Homo sapiens: one gene and its partners. The protein of the gene in region 1 interacts with the protein of each later gene in a pairwise test. Each region holds a gene or a part of one and is shown on either strand. Other genes may lie near its edges.

Region 1 (7,754 bases):
AAGGGGTTCTGATTTTTTTCCCTAATCTTTAAATCATGATGTTACTCAACCTTTATACATTACCCCTTTAATACAATAACTGTGAGGTAAGTAGACTAAGTATTATTTTCTGCATTTAAGAAATAATTAAATAGCTAGAAGTACTGAGGTAAAAAATACATCCATTTATAAAATGGGGAAAATTGCAGCAAAGTCCCTCAAAAGGGGTTTGCCTCATAAGGATGTGCTTAAGAAAGTGACTACTTCCCAGCAATTATCTGTTACTACGTTCATGCTAACAGTGAGCTTGGGGCTGATGAGGGGCACTGGACCTCTTTGCTGGGCTTTGAAAAATGACGAGCTGCTTCCTTTACTGCCAGTGGATGTGATACAATCAGGTCCCTTCTACTATGAGGACAGGTGAGATAAATTGGTGCTTTTCTTAGAGTCAGCTTGCCAATGACAAGACTGATGTTGGAAATTCATGCATTTTCTCTAGCAAGACGTCATTAAACTGCTTTTAATGACACAGCTGGCATTTGAGTCAACAGCCACTCCCAGGAACCACAAAAGGATAAAAACAGTAACAGTAGAGACTGAAGCAAGTCATGTATTTTTAAATTTAGATGTAAAAATATTTCTACTTTCCCTTTTTAAAAAATGTTTTTCCAATCCCGGTTTATTCCTAGTCACTTACAAATGACCCTATTATTTTCTATTACAATCTGTCCCTTCTAGCCTAAGACAATATTATTTACCTCTGAAAGATGCAATGCTAACTTCAGACCTGCTTTCTTAGCTTCTAAAAGAGGTTCCAAGAAGTCTTTTGCTTGTCCTACCTTAAAGATAAAAGTTAAAATAAGGATGCATGAGAATTCTGGGAAAACTGAGGAACTGAGTACTCCATTCCAATAAACAACATAATGGCAGAAAAAAATAATGGTAGATTAATTCATTTGCACATCTTGTTTATAAAGCACCTACAATGTGCGAGCCACTTCACTGAATACAAAGCTGGCAAAGGCACAGTTCCTGCCCTCGAGAATCTTGTCTAGTATCAGTAAACTGAGGTCAATCAGCTAAGCTGGATATAGTAGTCACCAAATTTTATGCCTGGAAGGACACCTAGATATCCAGAGCTAAGGAGAACTCACTCACTTGACTCAGGAACTCTCATGATTACTCAAAACACTTCCGTTAAACAGGTGGATAAAAAGAAGGGCAGAATACTCCAGGTTTGGACAAAGCCATAAGAATCAATTTCATGGGACTCTCTTATTCAGCTGTTTTCAACCAGGAGCAATTCTGCCCCCCAGGGGACACTTGGCAATGTCTGGAGACATTTTTGGTTGTCATATCTGGGAGAGTGCTACTGGCATCTAGTGGGTAGAGGCCAAGGATGCTGCTAAACATCCTACAATGCATGGGGCAGCCCCACAACAAATTATCCAGCCCCGAATATCAAGATTTCTGCTTGAATCTGACATTCAAGAAGCTCAAGTCAACATTTCTCAACTATCTATGAGACAGTTAAGCCCTAATACCCTAAGACATCCATCCATTGTATGTAATGAATTACATTATAGTGCATATAGTCTGGGACTAGTTGTGCACCATCTTTAGAAGAATGGAGAAAATAGTCATATAGTCAGGCAACTCTTTTTTTTTCTTTTAGGGTACTTAATTGTTTCACAGAACCTTGGATGAGAGCTGCTCTAGGCATTCTGGTCATCCAGGGCAGAACAGGCCTTCATCCACAGAATGGAGTGTCTGTTGGACACTCTGGAGAATGCAATGCAAGATGCCCGAAGCTAGTCCTTATCCCACTGATTCTACCTTTTAGAATTAAAATGTACGTAGGAAAAATAACTTACAGTAGGGTCTCCACTGAGGTCAAGGCCAAGAACTGTACCCTCAGTAGAAAGGAAGAACTCCTCGGCAAGTTTTACAGTCTCCTTGGCTACTAAAGGGCCACCTCTTCTGTCAACTGCTATCAAATACCTTTAATGTAAGAAAGACAGAGTTGAAAACTAATATGACACAGATGAAAAAGACAATTCTGAGTACAGCCAGACAGAGATGGCAGACTACGTGTAATACATCTCACTAGGAAAAGTATAGCCTGACTGAATCTAGACAACATGACATTTTACTTTGTCATACGGACTGAGACATGAATTCCTAAATAGCATCAAGCATCCAGTCACTGTTCAGATTTACAGTTGTCTTTCGAGGTTTTTTTGTTCCTGTATTTGTTTCTTCAGTTTGTTTGATTCAGGATCCAAACAAGGTCCACACTTTGTGTAAGTCAATGTATCTTCTAAGCCTCTCTTAATCTACAACCACTCTTTCCTCTCCTCCCACCTCCCACCCTGCTTTTCTTGTAACTTATTTGTTGAAGAAACCAAGTTGTTTGTCCTACAAAGTTTTCCATGGTCTGGATTTTGTTGATTGTATCCTGTGTTGTTAACATGTTGTCCTATTTTTTTTTTTTTTTTTTGAGATGGAATCTCACTCTGTCGCCCAGGCTGGAGTGCAATGGTGCAATCTCGGGCTCACTACAATCTCTGCCTCCCGGGTCCAAGCGATTCTCCTGCCTCAGTCACCCGAGTAGCTGGGGTTATAGGCACGTGCCACCACGCCCGGCTAATTTTTTGTATTTTTAGTAGAGACGGAGTTTCACCGTGTTAGCCAAGATGGTCTCGATCTCCTGACCTCATGATCCGCCCGCCTCAGCCTCCCAAAGTGCTGGGATTACAGGCGTGAACCACCATGCCCAGCCTTTAACATGTTGTCCTATTTCTTACATTTCCTGTCTAGTCCAGAGGCAGATCAGGTTCCATTTTTTGGCAAGAGTAAACTGGTGGTGGTGTGTTCTTAGGAGGGTGAGATCCATTATTTCATTAGGGGGTTACAAAATTAGAAATATTCTCTTTCTAAAATGTATCAAATATCTGATAAAAGTTCATTCCTCAAATATCAGCTGGAATTCTATAAGACTTGAATACCCAGAGAATCTCTGTTAATATTTCTTTTTTTTTTTTTTTTGAGACAGAATTTCATTCTTGTCACCCAGGCTGGAGTGAAATGGCACGATCTCAGCTCACTGCAACCTCCACCTCCCGGGTTCAAGCAATTCTGCCTCAGCCTTCTGAGTAGCTGAGATTACAGGTGCCTGCCACCACACCTGGCTAATTTTTGTATTTTTAGTAGAGATGGAGTTTCATCATGTTGGCCAGGGTGGTCTCCAACTCCTGACCTCAGGTGATCTGCCCATGTTGGCCTCCCAAAGTTCTGGGATTACAGGCATGAGCCACTGTGCTTGGCCTGTTAATATTTCTTGAATACCCAGAGAACCCCTATAATTTTTTAAAGCAGTTATGAGTTTACTATTTATTGACGAAATAAATTCCTTTAGCATTTGTTCATTTATTTATTTACAAAATTTAGATCAACTACATATAAAATGCTGTATCTTTTTTTTTCACTTAGCAACTTCCCATGCCATTAAAATAATGTTAGAAAATAGTATAAATCATATGAGCATACCATAATGTAATTATCCTCTGAATGCTGGATATTTTAAGCTATTTTCTAATTTTTGTTATAAATAACATTATAATAAGGAATCTTATGCATAAATCAATCTATTTCCTGGGATGCATTTCTAGCACAGAATTACTGTGTCAGAGGGAAAAACTTTTTTATAAATCTTGACATATATTGCTCTTTAGAGAGGTTTTTCCCCCCTTACCTGTGTACCAGTGCAGGATTTAAAGAGGTTTTATTAATTACATATGCTTACCAGCAGTGTGTAACTTACAAACACTGGCTATTACTTTTTTTAGCCTACTGAAACAGTATTGTAATATATGATTAATGAATTAAGTAGTTTTCTCTGTATTTCTATATGTCTACCAGCTCTTTGTATGTCTTCTTCTCTGCATTCTATTGTCTTCTGCTTGGTTTTTTATTGGGGTTATTACTTAAGCTTAATTTTTAGAGTCTTATAGCCTGAAACTATACAGCTAGCTTTTTTTCTTTCTTCATTTAGGGCTTTACTGAGCCCATACTATGTACCTACTTTGTGGTAAGTACTAAAGATGTAGTGGTGAATCAAAAAACAAGGTCCTTGGCTTCACTACACTTACACCCTAGTGGGTGGGCATATATACAAACTAACACAAGATAATTCCTAATCTTGTTACAAATAATGCCATAAAGGAAATAGATGGGTGACTAGAGGATTAGTAGGGCACTTTAGACAGAGTGGTAAAGGAAGGCCCCTCTGAGGAAGTAACAGCCAATTGAGATCTGAATAATGAGAAGAAGCCAGCCAGCTGGGCAGGAATCTGGTAGAAATGTGTTCTGGGGAATACTAAACAAAGGTGCTGAAGGGGAACAGTCTTTTTTGCTTATTTTAGGAACAGACAGCAGGCCCACGTGTAAGGGAGGAGGAGTGGTCTAGATGAGCTGCTGAAGTAACAGAGGCAGCCAGATCATGTGGGACCTTGTAGGCCACAGTAAGAAGTTCATTTTAGCTTAATGGCAAAGGAACACCATACTTTACTCATGTAAAAATACTCAGAATTTTATTGCCTTATGAATAAACTCAGAATTGTGTTCTCACTTTAAACAACAGGGTCCTTGATTTTATTTTTCTATTGTATAAATCAATGAATGATTAATTTTAAAAAATCCATTACACCCATGATCAAAACAGTAAAAATTCACATTCTGGTTTTGTAAATGTTAACTACTAAGGTACAATCTTCTTACCTAACATCAATGTCCAAGTTTTCTTGTTTGGACTGTTTTATACCTTCAAGTATAGATTCCACATAAGTCTTTTTAGTCATTCCTAGAAAGGACACATAGAAAATACATGTAAAGAGATCATCAACTATTTCATCCCTCACCTTCAGCAATCCTATATGAACAATTACATTTTCACTTTATGCTATGACAAGGGCATAGTTAAAGATGAGTGAAAACATGGCCCTTATGGGTATATTTTAGTAAATGCAAATTATATTTTAATAAAATTAGGGGGAAATGAAGTGTTAGAGAAATGAAATGAAAAAAAATAAAGGCTTTTTTTTTTTTTGAGACAGGGTCTGGCTGTCACCCAGGCTGGAGTGCAGTGGCATGATCTTGCCTCACTGCAACCTTTGTCTCCTGAGCTCAAGCCATCCTGCCACCTCAGCCTCCTGAGTAGCTGAGACTACAGGAAGGTACCACCACGCCCAGCTAGTTTTTGGATATTTAGTAGAGACGGGGTTTTGCTATGTTGCCCAAGCTGGTCTCAAACTCCTGGGCTGAAAGTGACACGCCCGCCTTGGCCTCCCAAAGTGCTGGGATTACAGGTATGAGCCACTACACTTGTCCTTTTTTTTTTTTTTTTTTTTAAAAGGGATATTTTCTCTCCTCCTAGTCCAGAAAAAAAGTCCTAACTTGGATTCCTTTCCCCTCAATCCTGCTCGGGCTTAGTGTTTCTCATCCAGGGAACCAGGCATGTTCTTCCAAGTCTGAGTGCTCTGCTCTCTGAGGGGATCTGCAAGAGCACTCTCCAGAGCAACCTCCTGTAAAATACCTTTTTTTCTTTTTCTTTAGGCTACATTGGGTAAAATAAAATACCCTTTTACCCGGATTATAAAATGCTTATGTTTGGTGGAAAGTCTCTGGTAAAATATATAAAATTATAAATAAAAATAAAAATAGGGTGTGGTGGCTCATGCCTGTAATCCCATCAGTTTCGGAGGCCGAGGCGGGCCGATCACCTGAGGTCAGGAGTTCGAGACCACCCTGGCCAACATGGTGAAATCCTGTCTCTACTAAAAATATGAAAATGAGCCAAGTGTGGTGGCATGTGCCTATAATCCCTGCTACTCGGGAGGCTGAGGCAGGAGAATCACTTGAACCTTGGAGGCGGAGGTTGCAGTGGGCCAAGATCCCACCACTGCACTCCAGTCTGGGTGACGAGCAAGACTCCGTCTCAAAAAAAATAAATAAATAAAAATAACCCCACCACCCAGAGATAACTACTGTTTTCCAAGTACACATATACACATTTATTTTTATGTATTATTTCAAGAGACCTTTTTTAAGGTCTCTCTCTGTTGCTCAGGCTGGAGGGCAGTGGCACGATCATGGTTCACTGCAGCCCTTGGAGCCCATAGAGGTGGGGGGGGTCTTATGATGCTGCCCAGGCTGGTCTCGAACTTCTGGCGTCAAGTGATCCTCCTGCCTCAGCCTCCCAAAGCGCTGGAATTACAGGCATGAGCCACTGCACTCTGCCCATATACACATTTTTAAATAGAGAAGATACTACTAGGTATATATGTACCCAGTTCAGTCATTTAACATGAGTCCGAGTATTTCCCCATGTCATTAAAGTGTCTTCACCAGTATTTTTAATGGTTGCCTAATATTCCATTAGCCTTTATTTAACCATTCCTCTACTGTTGCATATTTAGGTTAATATCCTTCTTTTAAAACTCCATTGAAAGAGCCCTATGAGTTGGCTCTTCTCTCCTTCCCTTTCACTACTCTCACCAGTACAACGTGGAACTGATTCTATGGTTCAAAAATGCAAGATGAGAGCCTTCTCCTTATCTTATGTAAACACTTATACTTTACAATAAGTTTCAAAAATTTTACCCCCAAATGATTACTGAGCTACATATATCAGGAAACAAGATGACCTAGGTCTCTTTGGGTCATAAACAAGGTGCTAAGAGGGCCCCAATGTCTCCTGATGCTGCTCTTATAGAAGGAGGATCTCAGGAAATTCCTCCAGATCATAGCCAGATCTCATCTCTATCCAGAGAGGTTTTACCACATCACAGCTTGCTCCTGGCCTAAGAAACTATTCCCTGAGAAGCGAATGAATAACCTACATTTTAGTAACTACCATAAAACATGATTCTGCATCCACTCAATGGCATTGTCTCACAAGTGCCCATGATGCAGGAAGCAAGAATCAGCCTCTGCTTGTAACAATGCAAACATAAGGAGCAGGTATCCTTTTCTCAGAGTGAAAACAACTAAACAAGGAAGAACAAAAGAAACTGCTGCAGGCCTTTGTTTCCTTCCTTAAACAGATAATGCCTGACTGGAATTTTACTACTTTTTACTTAAGAATAACTCACTCATTAATAATGTACATCAGGATGGGCACGGTGGCTCACACCTGTAATCCCAGCACTTTTAGAGGCTGAGGTGATTGTTGGGCCCAGGAGTTTGTGGTTACAGTGAGCTATGTTTGCACCACTGCACTCCAGCCTGGGCAAGACAGCAAGACCCTGTCTCTAAAACAAACAAAATGAACATCATTAATGTACATCAGAGAGAGGACTTGGACTGTTGACTAAAGGTTCAATGAAATACAGAACAACACAATAGTATAAAAGTTAGTGCTTCATATTCCCACTCACAAACATGTGAGTGATCAAAGCACATAGGAAAAGGACAGTACATTTGCTGAGAAGTATAAATTCTACCAGTAGCATTTTCTCTTCTGGGTGTGCTCCTTAGTTCCAGGTACTTGACGCCGTCATCTGCAAATTCTTTTATGACATCTTTTGTGACCTGATAATAAAGATAACGTACACAATATTGATAATGTTTGGGTAAGGGTCCCAATGAATGTGCCAAGTGCTACAGCTTTATTTTATTCATTAAATCTGATTTGCAAGTAATGTTGGAAGTTTCTCACGTGGTAGAGATTATCCACTTTGTCACATCCCTGATGGAGACTATGCAGGGCTGCAATA
Region 2 (7,754 bases), on another chromosome or scaffold:
ACGTTTGTGTTTTTTAGCTCATGCTACCTGGGGTGTAATACCAAGGTGGTTCCTGAGCACAGCTTGGGTCCCTGTTAGTAGGCCCTGCCTCTGAGATTCTCCACCAGGTGAAGTGAGGGTCTAGTGTGAGGAAGCAGGGGCTCATCACCTCCCATGCTGGAGGAGACACACCTTGAACAACACAGCACTCTCATTCAGCCTCACAACAACCTTGTGAGGCGAGCAGAGCAAATGCTTTCATCCCCAGATGAGAACGTGGACAGAAAGGTTGCATGACAAGCTCAGGGTCACTGCTGGATGTGATAAACCAGGATGGGACTCAGGTCTTCCAATCTCCAAACCTACCATGCTTTATTCTACCTCACTGGATTTTCCCTTAGGAAGGTGCTGGATTCGGGACAGGAGGAACATGGCCACCACAGCTGGAGCTCGCCCCTGACTCCCAGAGCTCTCTGGGTCTTTCACGCCCCCCACACTCTCTGCAGCCTGCTGTCCCCAGCACAGACAACACTAAGGTGAAGAGGCATCTTTCCTACCTGCCTGGCCCCAATTATGTTCTTTCCCAAACTTATTATTGCCACTTGTCCTTGTAATTTGGATATTCCATAAGCTGTTAAACATGAGTGCCACGAAGTCTGAGGTAAGCTGAATCTTTAGAAAGACTCGATAAAGGAAAGGGAATGGTTACAAGAGCTGCTGCGGCATTTGGTGTGGTGGATTCAACCGTAAGGGACTGGGTCATGAAGCGTTAAAAACCAGGCTTCTGCTCTCAAATCGCTTAGGAAGTGTTTGAAGTGTCCAAGCCTCCATGCAGAAGTCACAGAAGTGGTACAGAAGTGTGCTTAATGCAAGGGGGAAAATGAGGACTCCAGTCAGTCAGACCCAAATCTGAAAAGACCTTAGCCTACAGCACAAGATTTCTATGACTTAAGGGCTAATATTACTTGCTTTAAGTTAAAATTAAGTGTTACGGCGTGCGTGCGTGTTTTTATGATTCTTCGCTGTAACTGACTTCTTTGATGATCTGACCAGCTGCTGGTCCCCAGTGAGCTGGATAAGAGGCAGCCATATCTAATCCACTCAAGATGACTGACCCACCCAGGTCTCCATCGGGGAGTGTCCAAGGTGAGCCTCGGCGACTTGTGCTAGAATAAGGTGCTCAAGTGTGAGTGCGCTCCCAGCAAATGGATGCAGAAGCCAGCTTGAAGGGGTTTCCAGGTTGGCCAAATTTGGAACAATTTGTGTATCAAAAGAAGTAAATAACAAAAAAAGGACTAAAATGGATTATAACATTAGTTTCAAAATCCTTGAGCCCATAGCGATTAAGAAAAAAAAAAAAGAGAGAGAGAAGAAAGTGAAAAGAAAGCTCTGCTTTACAGAAAAATGTCAGCTAACAATGTAGAAGAATTTCTACTCAACTGAGTACTTCAGGCAAGGGTGATCAACACATGCTAAACCACTGGGTGAGTGACTGTCAGTAAACAGGATATTCACATTGTGCTGAAGTATCACCCCAAATACTAACAAGAGAGGAGGAAATGAACCCTTATGGTAGAGAGATCAGCTGTAGCATCACTAAGAGGAGGTGATAATAATCTTACAGATACAATCTGCCATCACATGCTTTCTGATGTAGAGACCTGCCAAAAACATTCGTGCCAAAAACATTTAACTTGAACCTAATCAAGCCTCTCCACCTAACTTCTGGTTTCCAGGAAATACAAGGAATACAGAGAAATGTTCAACGCTGTCATGAGGAAAAAAGCAAACAAACCAGAATGGGGCATCCTATAACCCACTGCCTGGACTCTTCAAAATGGAACTTCAACATGGAACAAAATATAGGTGGAAAGATTTGTAAATTCCAAGAGACAGAATCAAATGTAACGCAAGACACCTGATTCCATCCTGGTATATAAAACCCAGTAGGTATCAAAACCCAGTAGGTAGCAAAATACCAACTCTATAAAAGACATTTGGGGACTAATTGGGGAAATTTGAATATGGATTGAATATGAGATGATGGATAGAAACAGTATTAACTGTTGAGGTGGGATAATGGTATTGTGGTTGGAAACACAATGTATTCCTTAGGAGACACGTGCTGAGGTCTTCAGGGATGAAGGGCCAGGATGCCTGCTACTTATATTCAAATGGTTCAGTAATAGGTAAAGATAAAGCAAATGTGGCAAAAGTATTAACAAATGTTGAATCTAGGTGGAGATACACAGGTATTCATGTTAACATTCTTTCAGCCAGATGCTGTGGCTCATGTCTGCAATCCCAGCACTTTGGGAGGCTAAGCCTGAGCCCAGGAGTTCAAGACCAGCCTGGGCAAAATAGCGAGATCGCACTTCTAAAAAATTTTTTTCTTTTAATTTTCTCTATGTCTAAAAATTATCAAAATAAGTTGAGAAAACAAAAACAAAATTTTAAAAATAATGAAAACTTGAAGTTTGCTCACGCTAAGCAAGCCCTGACTTCCCAGTTTACCAAAATTAAAAAGGGGTTAAAAAGTGATTGATTTAGCTGGGTGTGGTGGCAGGTACCTGTAATCCTAGCTACTCAGGAGGCTGAAGCAGGAGAATCGCTTGAACCTGGGAGGTGGAGATTGCAGTGAGCTGAGATCATGCCACTACACTCCAGCCTGGGTGACAGTAAGACTCTGTCACACAAAAAAAACAAAAAAACAGCCAACCAACCAAACAAAAAAAAAAAACAAGTGATTGGAAGAATAGGGAAAAAAAATAGATAATTGCCCACATTTGCCCCTTTAATCAGCTGAACATGAGATGACACAGAATGTTCACACAGAAGCTCTTGGTGAAAGGAATGCCATTCTCCAGCTACACGGGCACCAGCCCCCAAACCTGGAATTTAAAGGTTCTACTCCTGAAGATACAATGGGCTGGTTCTGTAGTTTTCAAAGGGCCATAGCCTATTACTCACAGGGTTCTCCTTACAGTCTTCGCTCAGCATCTCTGGAGCGATCCAGCCTTCTGTGCCAGGCACCCCAGATCGGCGGCTGAAACTGTGTCTGCCCACTGCCAGCTTCTTGCAGAGGCCAAAGTCGGAGATCATGGCCTTGATCTTGCCGTGTGCATTGGGCATGGATATGAGGATGTTGTGTGGCTTTAGGTCTCTGTGAACTAACAGAGAACTCCAGATTAGTCCAATGCTTACCAGGAGCAACCCCAGGCCTCCTCCAATGGGGAATGTGTCCTCGTCAGACTCCCAATATGCCTGCCGCCACCTCCAAATGTTCTGATTTTCAACTATGTCGGATTCCTCCTCAAATTCTTACACCACTCATCTTTGCTACTGGTGATATAGCCAAGAGCTTGAACAGAAGCAAGGCCCACCCGAGCTACTGGTTAGCCCCACCTGGGCCACTGATTCTCCCCACCCGGGCCGCTGGCCTGGTAAAGTGCAGCCTCTCACCGATGTTGAGGGAGTGGAGGTGGGCCAGGCCCGAGGTGGTCTGCTGCAGCAAGGTGATGGGCTCCAGGCCGAGATGCGCAAAGTCCTTCTGCTCCACATACTGCAAAAGACATGACAGCAAGGTCACGGCACACAGTCCTCAGGACTTGGCCCCTCGGCTCACTTTCTTTGATACCATTTTAAGAAAGAAATGGCAAGTTTTACTGACAACATTCTGTCTAAATCCATGTTTTCCAGCAAGGAGCAAACCTCCAAATCTACTAATTTACAATGAGAAAGATAAGAAGGCAAGAAACTCAAGTTCATTGCCTCATATAAGTAAACCTACAAAGGAATCCAAATGATACTGATATGGTTTCAAAGTGAGCCTGGAAAATGAGCAAAAGGAGCTTGCTGGATGATCTTAAAGCCTGGAGTTACCAACTGGCATCCTCCAAGCCCACACCAGCCATGACTGAAGAGGGAAAGAACAACTGTCCAGGTTTCCTGGAGGCAAAGAGGGAGAGACATGCCAACTGCAAGCAGACTGCCCAGGCATGCTGGGGGGACCACCCTGTTACAACCAGAGGGATAAAAATGCTCCACATTTTGACTGTGTATGTGGTTAAATGGGTATAGACATTTGTCAAAATTCATCAAGCTATTACATTTAAAATTAGTACAATTCACTGTAACTTTTTTTTAATTTGACGGGGTCTCACTCTGTTGTCCAGGCTGGAGTGCAGTGGCACAATCACTGCTTACTGCAGCCTTGATCTCCCAGGCTCAAGCAATCTTCCCACCTCAGCCTCCCAAGTAGCTGGGGCTACAGGAACACATCGCTAGGCCTGGCTAATTTTTGGTTTCTTTGTAGAGATGGGGTTTCACCATGTTGTCCAGGCTGGTCTCAAACTCCTGAGCTCACGTGATCTGCTCACTTTGGCCTCCCAAAGTGCTATGACTTTAATAAAGTTAACAAAATAAAAAAAATAAATCCACCTCTTGCAGGGTGGCTGCACACAGCTCGATGGCAATGTACTGGAATTGCCGGTCCTTCTCCGTGCAGAAGTAGCGGATCACGTTCGGGTGCTCATCCGATTCTCGCAACAGCTGGACCTCACGGTCTGCGAAGCTAAAACACTCGGGGAGGATCCTCTTCACGGCCACGTCGCGGTTGTCAAACATGCCCCTGCGGGATGAGGAGTGGGAGTTGTGTCTGGGAAGCACGAGTCAGGCTGTGTAAATGAGGTGAGAACCTGGGTCCACAGCATTCACCTACTGCCTCCCAGCCTAGAGAGCCCCGCCTGACTGCCTGGTGGCCCCGGAATCATCGCTTGTCTCAGTGTGCAAGCTCCCTGGAGGCCGGACTCCATGCGTCTAGGTCACTGCTTTGACCCTGCTGTGCTCTGAGCCTGGCACCAGGCTCGCAACCTGACAGGCACTTAGACACCAGGCGGTGAGGGCAGGGGGCTGGCTAATCCACTCACCGGTACACAATTGTGCCCTCAGCTCCATGGCCCAGGACATCCTTGGGACAGAAGGAAATTTTCCCAACTATCACCACGCTGGTTTCCTCATCTGGGACAAAATAGGAAAAAGAGATTGTTTCAAACAGATATCACCTAAAGAACCTTGAGGTTAACATAGTGACAAGCTTCCTGACCTCAGATTAAAAGATGGGATTTAAGAGGCACTGCACCCCAGACTGCTGCTCAGCAAGAGCCTGCCAGGCCCACTCCCCATGTACACCCAGGACTGCCTCTTCCCCCTGCCCCTGCATTCTGTCTCCGCCTTTACCTTATTGTGCGATTGCATATCTTAAAACCTTCTGGAAGGCAGGGATTCTCCATAGCGTTTCACACACTTATACATATTCATTGTGATATAGTTAGAATGGTTTAATAGTTAACAACCACCACAAAGTCCACTGTAAAGATCCGCACTGAAGCATTCAGGTGGCGGCAATGGACATGTAAAACGAGGAGACTCCTTGGGACAGAGGGCTCTGAGTTCCCTGCACCAGCTCTGTGCCAGTTCCCTCAGAATTGGGGCTCTGACAACTGGCTTGAGCCAACTTCCACAGAGGAAAGCAGACCAACTGTGACACTTCCACACTTGGCCACCGGCTGGCCCTGGGAACTCTCTTCAGCCCAATGGGCAGCTCACCTCTGGTCAGCCGCGACGCCCAGCCCTTGTGGAGAAAGACAGGAGGATGGCCAGGGTGGTTCCCAGAAGGCCCTCTGAAGGGGAGATGCCAAGGGATGGGGCAGAAGCCTTCCCACAGAGACCCCCAGAGTGGAAGTTAGAGGAGAACACAGTGAACCCCTGAGAATGGTAGTTTACAATCTTATGGAGACTCCTTGGACTTCTCAGGAGGTGCTCGAATAAAACATAAAATAGCACCAAGATGGCAACTGGCTTTACCTCCATCGTCTTGTTCCAGGGAGGGGCTGCTGCCAGCCTTGGAGGCAGAGCTGCCGGAGCAGAGCGAGTGGTTGGAGGCCCTGGGGGACGTGCTGGGGCTGCTGGTGCCCGAGCTCTCTGAGTACGGGCCAGACGTGTCCAGGAGCTCGCCGTCCTGAGCCGTGTCTCCAGGTGGGTGGAAGGGCAGCTGCTGCTGCTGCTGCTGCAGGAGCTGGATCTTCTCCAGTTCCTTCTGGAACTGCTGGTGCTGGAGCTGCTGCTGCTGATGCATGCTCTGGGAAGAGAAACCCACATCCAGACAAGGGCAGCTGTTCCCACAGGGAAACAAGCAGCTGGGAAGGGACAGGTCCCAGTGGCGGAGGGAGCATGTGTACTTTATGTGACCCAACAGGGCACAAAGAGACCAGTGAGAAGGCACCTGGAAGCAGAATTGCTTCGATGACTGGACGTCTTTCCACCGACTAGTTAGATCCTTGCTCATACAGCCCACTCCCCAACCCTAGGAGGGGCTGGATGGCCACCAGGGGAGGGACTGTGCCCTAGGTTGAGGGCTGTGCCAGTTTCATTCAGTTCTAAAATTCTGTGATTTTCATGAAAGTCTGAGAGTTGTTGCAAAGGTGAAACCAAACAGGAAGCACAGGTAGCATGGCTGAGCCAGTGGTGGGTGAGAGCAAGCCCCAGGTTCGCCACCCACCGTGTCTGTGTGTTGGCTAGAGGCTAGCGCACAGACACTCAGTAATCCAGAGGGGCAGGTGAGGAAGCTCTAGTATTCTAGGTATGCAGAGTACATCTGCATACACATAGCCAGGAGGTGGCAGTGGGGCTGACACATGGTGAGCCTGGCTGAGGTCCTGCTTCCGCCTTTCATCCCACTGCCTTCCCCGAGGCCACATGCCTCTCAAATACTCTGAAGGATTCATTCTGTCATTATCTGAAGTAGCAGCGATCTGTGATCATCCCTACCCATGTGCAGGAGGTGGACTGAAGGGACTTCTGTGAGCCACCAACCCACCAGGGAGTCGTCTCTTCTTCTCTCCACCATGGGGTGGAGTCCTAGAAATGCCGTCTACTAGCTGGGTACCCGTGGGGAAAGTTACTTAGCTTCTCAGGGTCTACTTCCTTCTTTTGTGGACAAGGGATCAATAATAATGACCTCATAGGACTGAGTGAGGTGAAAAGTGAAACTATCAGGTGCAGACGTGCCAGTGGGGAGTGCCATAAAGAGTCTGTCATTCCCATTCCTGGGCGGGTCATTAGCTTCCTGAGCTCTCAGGTAACAGCATCTCGATGCTCTGAGCAACCTGCTGAAGGACCATGCCCCTCACATATTTCATCCCACCCATGGCCTGTTCTGCTACAGAACTTGCTCATTTCCAACTAGGAAGTAAAGGGATGGCCACACTGCCTTTTTCACACAAGCTGATCTCACAGGCAGCTTCTTTTTTCTTTTTTTGGTTCTTCTCCCCAGCAGAAGTTCTAATGGCAGTTTTTAAGGGAGGAAAGGTCTTCATCTATTATCCTTATTCTTTAAAAATACAGATAACTATTCAAAATCATCTTTGAGCAAGGCTTATAAATCAGCTCTTAGCTGAAAAACACTAAGATTTAGGAACAAAATTGTCCTTTTCTGGGAGGCTAGTGTCTCTTTAATTATGTTTTTGAAGATAAACAAACACTGACTTTTTTTTTCTTTTTTTTTGAGATGGAGTCTTGCTCTGTCGCCTTGCTCTGTCGCCCAGGCTGGAGTGCAGTGGTGTGATCTCAGCTCACTATAAGCTCCGCCTCACGGGTTCACGCCATTCTCCTGCCTCAGCCTCCAGAGTGGCTGGGACTACAGGCCCCTGCCACCATGCCCGGCTAATTTTTTGTATTTTTAGTAGAGACAGGGTTTCACTGTGTTAGCCAGGATG
Region 3 (7,754 bases), on another chromosome or scaffold:
ATTTTTGCTGTGTGTTAACAATCAAAGCAAAAAGAGGAACAAGGTCCATTAGAACATTCTCAGAATCCACAAGATAGAAATGAATCAGTTGTTCAGCATAAACACAGTGTTTCCTGGTGCTGTTGGAACACTTTGTGAAATTAGGGACAATATCTCATCAACATCCCAGACCAACATCCCAAAAGACCATTTAATAGCTTGCATCTGTGCTTCTCCCTACCCCATAGCCCCTCCCTCCAGAGATGACCACTATGCTGACTTGTAAAATATTAATCTTATATCCAGCCACCTTTCTTTTTCGTTTGTTTGTTTGTGTTTTTGCAGACAGAGTCTTATTCTGTCGCCCAGTGCAGTGTTGTGATCTCAACTTACTGCAACCTGTGCCTCCCAGGTTCAAGTGATTCCCCTGCCTCAGCCTCCCAAGTAGCTGGGATTACAGGTGCATGCCACAATGCCTGGCTAATTTTTGTATTTTTGGTAGAGACGGGGTTTCACCATGTTAGCCAGGCTGATCTCGAACTCCTGGCCTCCCACAGTGCTGGGATTACAGGTGTGAGCTGCCATTCCTGGCCTTATCCAGCCACCTTTCTAAACTCACATTTATTTCTAATAATTTGTCTGCAGACTCTTTGAGGTTTTTACATATCATGTCATCTGTCTTTGAGAGTTTTAAACATTGGACTGCTCCATTCACTCAAAAATTTTAAAAAATTCCATGATTGCATTATTCATACTTCATGGAGATAGATGGGGGGCTAAGAAAGCATACCAGACATAGTCACTTTCAATCCCAGGTCCAAATGCTGGATAGGTAGCTTCCTTGAGAATGGGCATGGTAGAAATTTCTGGGGGGACGTGTAGGGATTTGGGAAAAACACCTGGTTTTATGGTCATGGACTTTCAGTACATTTTTTTCCAAATCCCCTACAGATCAATTACTTTTTCTCTTTTTTATACTTATTTAATTTTTTTTAGATGGAGTTTCGCTCTTGTTGCCCAGGCTGGAGTGCAATGGCGCGATCTCAGCTCACTGCAACCTCTGCATCCCGGGCTCAAGCGATTCTCCTGCCTCAGCCTACTAAGTAGCTGGGATTACAGGCATGTACCACACCCGGCTAATTTTGTATTTTTAGTAGAGACAGGGTTTCACCATGTTGGTCAGGCTGGTCTTAAACTCCTGACCTCAGGTGATTCACCCACCTTGGCCTCTCAAAGTGCTGGGATTACAGCCGTGAGCCACTGCGCCTGGCCTCTTTTCTTTCTTTTTTTTTTTTTTGAGACAGGATCTCACTCTGTCACCTAGGCTGGAGTGCACTGGCATGATCATGGCTCACTTCAGCCTCGACCTCCCAGGCTCAGGTGATCCTCCCACCTCAGCCTCCTGAGTAGCTGGGACTACAGACACATGCCATCATGCCCAGCTGATTCTTTTGTATTTTTGTAGAGTCAGGGTTTTGCCATGTTGCCCAGGCTGGTCTCGAACTTCTGGGCTCAAGCGATCCTCCTGCCTCGGCCTCCCAAAATTCTGGGATTACAGGTGTGAGCCACTGCACCTAGCTTCATCCATATTTTTTTTAGCCATGTATAGAACATGAGATGTTTGAAGTTGTTTTCTGACAGGAATTTGGAGAGTGAATATTTTATGGTGCTGATTAAACCCAGATTCATGTGCTTGGAAAAGACAACCACAGGGAAGCTAGTGAGTGCTTTGAGATATGTCAAGGGGTAAAACTAAGACCACAAGTGGGCTGCAGAAGCACCTACAGGCATTGCCAAGAGGATCTCCAAAAAGCAGTTCACCCTGGTCTGCTCTGAAGTTTGGATACAAGTCCTGACCCATGGGCATGGTTCAGGATCTTCTAGCCTGGAAAATTTTCAGGGCAGTTGCCCACAACCAACCAACTGACAAAAACACAGCAATAGCTAGAGAGCACCCAATTTTAAGCAATCCACCCTTCCGTCAGCCTGCTACTGTGAATGAGCCTCAATATGTGATCTGTAGTTAGCTGAATTCTATTGACAGCCTATGGTTACTGGATATAAGCCAATTCTGTTCTGGGGACTTGCCAGAAATGACACAATTGGCCAGTTGACCCACAGCCTAGTTCCTAGCAGAGATTGGATAGCTGATTGAGCATTGTGGCTGTTTTGAGGCTTGACCAGAGATTCCTGCCGTTGGCAGAGGGGAATCTGTAGTCTTTGCTTCTTGGTAGCAGGTGAGGCTGAAAACGCAAGTAGCAGGCTAAAAACTGGTTTCAAGTCCTCACCATCTGGTGAAACCTCAGAGCCCATCAGATAGAAAATGCCAGCTGGGACTGTGCTAATTCGGTAAGGCCTGGGTGGAGAAGGAGGGCCTGGGCACGACCATCTGGTTTCGGAATGGAGGTAGCAGTCATTTATTAAGCACTTAATGTATATCGGGCACTGTACAGGAGACGTTCTGGCTGTTCTCCTGTACATTTCCTGCAAAGACCTAATGAGATATGATTACTCCATCCTACAGGTAAGGAAACTGAGCTCAGAGAGTCTAGCTGCCCAGGGTCACACAGTAAATGATGAGCCAGGACTTGAACACTTGACTGCTTGAATCCTGTACTCCCTCCAGGGGCCAAGATGTGGCAGCTCACAGAATGCCTATATCTTTTTTTTTTTTTGTCTTTTGAGACAGTCTCACTCTGTCGCCCAGGCTGGAGTGCAGTGGTGAGATCTCACCTCACTGCAACCCCCGCCTCCCAGGTTCAAGTGATTCTTGTGCCTCAGCCTCTCAAGTAGCTGGGATTACAGGCCTGCACCACCAAACCTGGCTAATTTTTGTATTTTTAGTAGAGAGGGGGTTTCACCATGTTGGCCAGGCCAGTCTCTAACTGCTGACCTCAGGTGATCCACCCACCTTGGTCTCCCAAAGTGCTGGGATTATAGGCGTGAGCCACCATACCTAGCTCTACATCTTTATCACACTCTGTTCCTTTGCCTTGGTGGGAAAAGTTGCAGCTTAGTACCAACTGCCTCCTGCTTGAGCCACTGTGCACAGTTACTATCAGCCTGGCCCTGTAGGCACGTAGAACCCCTGGACTCAATACTGCATAGGATGGGATAAGACCACATCTGATGTGGTGAAGGTCACCGGGATGATGTTGTTTCTGAGATAACAGGTATGTCTGCCTTCCTTCCCTTTGCATTTAGCTTTCACAATCAACAGTGTTGACATGAAGAGCCTGCCGGACTGGACGGTGCAAAATGGGAAGAACCTGACCCTGCAGTGCTTCGCGGATGTCAGCACCACCTCTCACGTCAAGCCTCAGCACCAGATGCTGTTCTATAAGGATGACGTGCTGTTTTACAACATCTCCTCCATGAAGAGCACAGAGAGTTATTTTATTCCTGAAGTCCGGATCTATGACTCAGGGACATATAAATGTACTGTGATTGTGAACAACAAAGAGAAAACCACTGCAGAGTACCAGGTGTTGGTGGAAGGTGAGTCCTTGGAACTGAGCACAGGCAAGCAGATGGAGCATAGCACACAGTGGCGTGAATAACAGCTGTGAATGAATAGTGACACTGGACTTAACTCTCCACCCATCACCCTCTCATTCATCTGCCTGGCATTTTCCTTACCTGAATACGTAAGCACTAGACATATTCCCAATAGGCCAGGCCCTTCCTTCCTTCCTTCCTTCCTTTCTTTCTTTGATGGAGTCTCACTCTGTCACCCAGTCTGGAGTGCAGTGGTGTGATCTCGGCTCACTGCAACCTCTGCCTCCCAGGTTCAAGCGATTCTCCTGCCTCAGCCTCCCAAGTAATTGGGATTACAGGTGTGTGCCACCACACCTGGCTAATTTTGTATTTTTAGTAGAGATGGGGTTTCACTGTGTTGGTCAGGCTGGTCTCGAACTCCTGACCTCAAGTGATCCACCTGCCTTGGCCTCCCAAAATGCTTCTTCATCTCGTCTCATAAATTAAAATTTCTTCTTCAAGACTCAACTCAATGATGTCTTCTCTTTCCAAAACAAAATGGGTCTACCCCAGGGTGCCAGTCAGTACAGCTCTGATGCTCTCTCTACATTCAATGGTATTTGTGTGTATAAAGGCCACAGCGGTGTGTTAAGACACCTCGTTCTGCAGTCACTCTGCCTGGGTTTCAATCTGGGCAAGTCCCTTAACAGCTCTAAACTTCAAAATCCTCACCAGTAAAAGGAAGATAACAACGATACCCATTTCAGGCAATTATTGAGAGGGTTAAAAGTGTCATGTGGGTAGAGTGCTTAGCAAAATTTCCAGCACCTAGTGAGTTCCTAATAAATAGAAATGTATTTATTTATTTTGAGACAGAGTCTTCCTCTGTCACCCAGGCTAAAGAGCAATGGCGCGACCTTGGCTCACTGCAACCTCTGTCTCCTGGGTTCAAGCGATTCTCCTGTCTCAGCCTCCCAAGCAACTGGGATTACAGGCACGCGCCACTGTGCCTGGCTAATTTTTTGTATTTTTAGTAAGGATGGGGTTTTACCATGTTGGCCAGCCTGGTCTCGAACTCCTAACTTCAAGTGATTTACCCACCTTGGCCTCCCAGAGTGTCAGGATTACAGGTGTGAGCCACCATGCCCGGTCCACAAATATTCTATTTCACTCAGTATTGCCATCCATTCTTACACATCTGTCTGCTCTTCTGGATAGTGAAATTGTAAAGACAGAGATGGTGTTTGGTTTATTCTTATATCTTGAACAATGAATGTGGCTCATAGTAGGCATTCAGTCAATGTTCATGGAATAAATTAAAGTCAGTCCTAGCCTGTGGCTGCATTCAATAAAGGGTAACAACAATCACAGTGACACTGACAAATACTGGCTACCTTTCCCCTCTAAGCATCATCTGTTGGGAATCTGATTGTGTCCTCTTCCCAATAGGATTATAAACCATTGAAAACACCAAGTACATCTTGACCATATTTTATTTTTTAAATTTATTTATTTATTTATTTATTTATTTATTTATTTTTAGACAGAGTCTCACTCTGTTGCCCAGGCTGGAGGGCAGTGGCACGATCTCAGCTCACTGCAACCTCTGCCTTCGGGGTTCAAGCAATTCTCCTGCCTCAGCCTCCCAAGTAGCTGGGATTACAGGTGCCTGCCACCATGCCCGGCTAATTTTTTGTATTTTTAATAGAGATGGGGTTTCGCCATGTTGGCCAGGCTGGTCTCAAACTCCTGACCTCAGGTGATCCACCTGCCTCAGCCTCCCAAAGTGTTGAGATTACAGATGTGAGCCACCTCGCGTGGCCTTAGTGGTGATTTTGGTGGACCCATCACCCGAGCAGTGTACACTGTACCCAGTGTGTAGTCTTTTATCCCTCGCTCCCTCCCACTCTTTCCCCTGAGTCCCCAAAGTCCACTGTATCATTCTTATGCCTTTGTTTCCTCATAGCTTAGCTCCCATTGAGCATATTTTATATTTTTTCCTTTCTTTTCTTCTCTTTTTTGAGACAGGGTCTCTGTTGCCCAGGCTGGAGTGCAGTGGTGGGATCACTGCTCACTGCCGCCTCAACCTCCTCGGCTCAGGTGATTCTCCCACCTCGGCCTCCCAAGTAGCTGGGACTACCAGTGCACACCACTAACTACCCCTGGCTAATTTTTAATTTTTTTTTTTGTAGAGATAGCATTTCACCGTGTTGCCCAGGCTGGTCTCCAACTCCTGGGCTCAAGAGATCCACCCACCTCAGCCTCCAGATTTTATATATTTCAAAGTGCCTAGTACTGTGCTGGGCACATACCTGTTCATTTATTACCTGGTAGGTCGCACTGGGTGTTCAGAGAACAAAAAAGAGCCCTCTCATGGGTCAACTACAGTCACTCAGCGGAGGGAGGCTTGTGTCTCTCAATCAGGCTGATACTGACAGACTTTCTCTTCAATCAGGCTGATACTGACAGACTTTCTCTTTCCCCGTAGGAGTGCCCAGTCCCAGGGTGACACTGGACAAGAAAGAGGCCATCCAAGGTGGGATCGTGAGGGTCAACTGTTCTGTCCCAGAGGAAAAGGCCCCAATACACTTCACAATTGAAAAACTTGAACTAAATGAAAAAATGGTCAAGCTGAAAAGAGAGAAGAATTCTCGAGACCAGAATTTTGTGATACTGGAATTCCCCGTTGAGGAACAGGACCGCGTTTTATCCTTCCGATGTCAAGCTAGGATCATTTCTGGGATCCATATGCAGACCTCAGAATCTACCAAGAGTGAACTGGTCACCGTGACGGGTCAGCATCCTGCTCCCTTCCTCATCGTTCTTTGTGGTTTCTGGTTTGGTATGGGGAGAAAGAACCCAGAACTGGGAAGGGGCTGCTGTTCTCAGGACTTAAGACCTGTTCTTAATCATTTTAAGCCAGTATTTTTCAAGCTTTTTTGACTGTTATACAGTTAAATTGCATACAATTTTTCAGACAAGAGTTTCACCAACAACACTTTACTCTTAATATATATGATGCTTTTTGTTTGTTTGGCTTGGTTTTTGGGGTTTTTTTTTTGAGACAGAGTCTCGCTCTGTCGCCCAAGCTGGAGTGCAGTGGTGCAATCTTGGCTCAGTGCAGCCTCTGCCTCCCGGGTTCAAGCAATTCTTATGCCTCAGCCTCTGGAGTAGCTGGGATTACAGGCATGCAGCACCACACCTGACTAATTTTTGTATCTTTAGTAGAGATGGGGTTTCGTCATGTTGGCCAGGCTGGTCTCAAACTCCTGATGTCAGGCGATCCACCCGCCTTGGCCTCCCATAGTGCTGGGATTACAGGCGTGAGCCACCACCCCAACCTTGTGTGTGTTTTTGAGACAGGGTCTTGCTCTGTTGCCTGAGCTGGAGTGCAGTGGCATGATTTCAGCTCACTGCAACCTCCGCCTCCCAGGTTCAAGCGATTCTCCTGCCTCAGCCTCCTGGGTAGCTGGGATTACAGGGGCATGCCACCATGCCTGGCTAAATTTGTATTTTTAGTATAGACAGGGTTTTACCATGTTGGCCAGGCTGGTCTCAAACTCCTAACCTCAGATGATCTACTCACCTCGGCCTCCTAAAGTGCTAGGATTACAGGCGTGAGCCACCGTGCCCAGCCTATTTCAGTCTTTAAACACTGGCCATGACACACTACACTGATGCATTATGTGATCTGTAGTTTGGAAGCCACTGCTTTAAGCCATCGAGGGTCAGACACCAGGAAGTTGGGTTTGGAGGGGATCGGGAGGAAAGAGGGGCCAGGTCCTCAGCCTTGGCCTCCTGTTGTTCAACGTAGATTTGCGTTGGACAAACAGCAAACAAATGAGGTGGCCTGGGAAATGCTCCCAGGAGAGAAGGAGGCAACAGCAGAGGGAAGCTGGGGAGTGTCCAGGACATACAGGGCTCTAGGACAGGTAGTCAGCCACTCCCAGGACCCGGTCTCATTTGCCAAGCCGGGAGAAGTCAGGGGAAGGCACACCCATGTAGATATTTGCAAATATTTCCAAAATAGGAAACTTACATTTTGTCATAAATGGTCCCCTTCTTTTGGCATCCCACTTTATCCTGCCCATTGTGTGTATGTGTGTCTGTATGTTCTATTATCTGATTATAAAATCATGTGTGCTCTGGGTAGAATTTTCAGACAAAAGAGCAGGATATAAAGTATGTATATAAAGTGACAATCATTTATAATGCCTCTACTTAGAGAAAACCACACATGATCCTCTAGACTTTTTCTACATATATTTATATATCATATACACACCCAGCCACACACA

What was found. Proteins that work in one complex are often made in the same cells at the same time.
Region 2: the proteins of MAPDA (region 1) and ERN1 interact in binary tests that used the Homo sapiens proteins (3 or more experiments, as listed by UniProt).
Region 3: the proteins of MAPDA (region 1) and PECAM1 interact in binary tests that used the Homo sapiens proteins (3 or more experiments, as listed by UniProt).

What each region holds. Positions count from the first base shown.
Region 1 is NC_000015.10:43,340,080-43,347,833, reverse strand, and holds part of MAPDA (N6-Methyl-AMP deaminase), read right to left. Parts: intron 7,570-7,754; coding exon 7,482-7,569; intron 4,841-7,481; coding exon 4,759-4,840; intron 1,981-4,758; coding exon 1,854-1,980; intron 819-1,853; coding exon 738-818; intron 1-737. UniProt on the Homo sapiens protein: Catalyzes the hydrolysis of the free cytosolic methylated adenosine nucleotide N(6)-methyl-AMP (N6-mAMP) to produce inositol monophosphate (IMP) and methylamine.
Region 2 is NC_000017.11:64,049,831-64,057,584, forward strand, and holds part of ERN1 (serine/threonine-protein kinase/endoribonuclease IRE1 precursor), read right to left. Parts: intron 6,119-7,754; coding exon 5,845-6,118; intron 4,999-5,844; coding exon 4,908-4,998; intron 4,610-4,907; coding exon 4,420-4,609; intron 3,542-4,419; coding exon 3,442-3,541; intron 3,150-3,441; coding exon 2,950-3,149; intron 1-2,949. UniProt on the Homo sapiens protein: Serine/threonine-protein kinase and endoribonuclease that acts as a key sensor for the endoplasmic reticulum unfolded protein response (UPR).
Region 3 is NC_000017.11:64,373,547-64,381,300, reverse strand, and holds part of PECAM1 (platelet endothelial cell adhesion molecule precursor), read left to right. Parts: intron 1-3,183; coding exon 3,184-3,477; intron 3,478-5,944; coding exon 5,945-6,250; intron 6,251-7,754. UniProt on the Homo sapiens protein: Cell adhesion molecule which is required for leukocyte transendothelial migration (TEM) under most inflammatory conditions.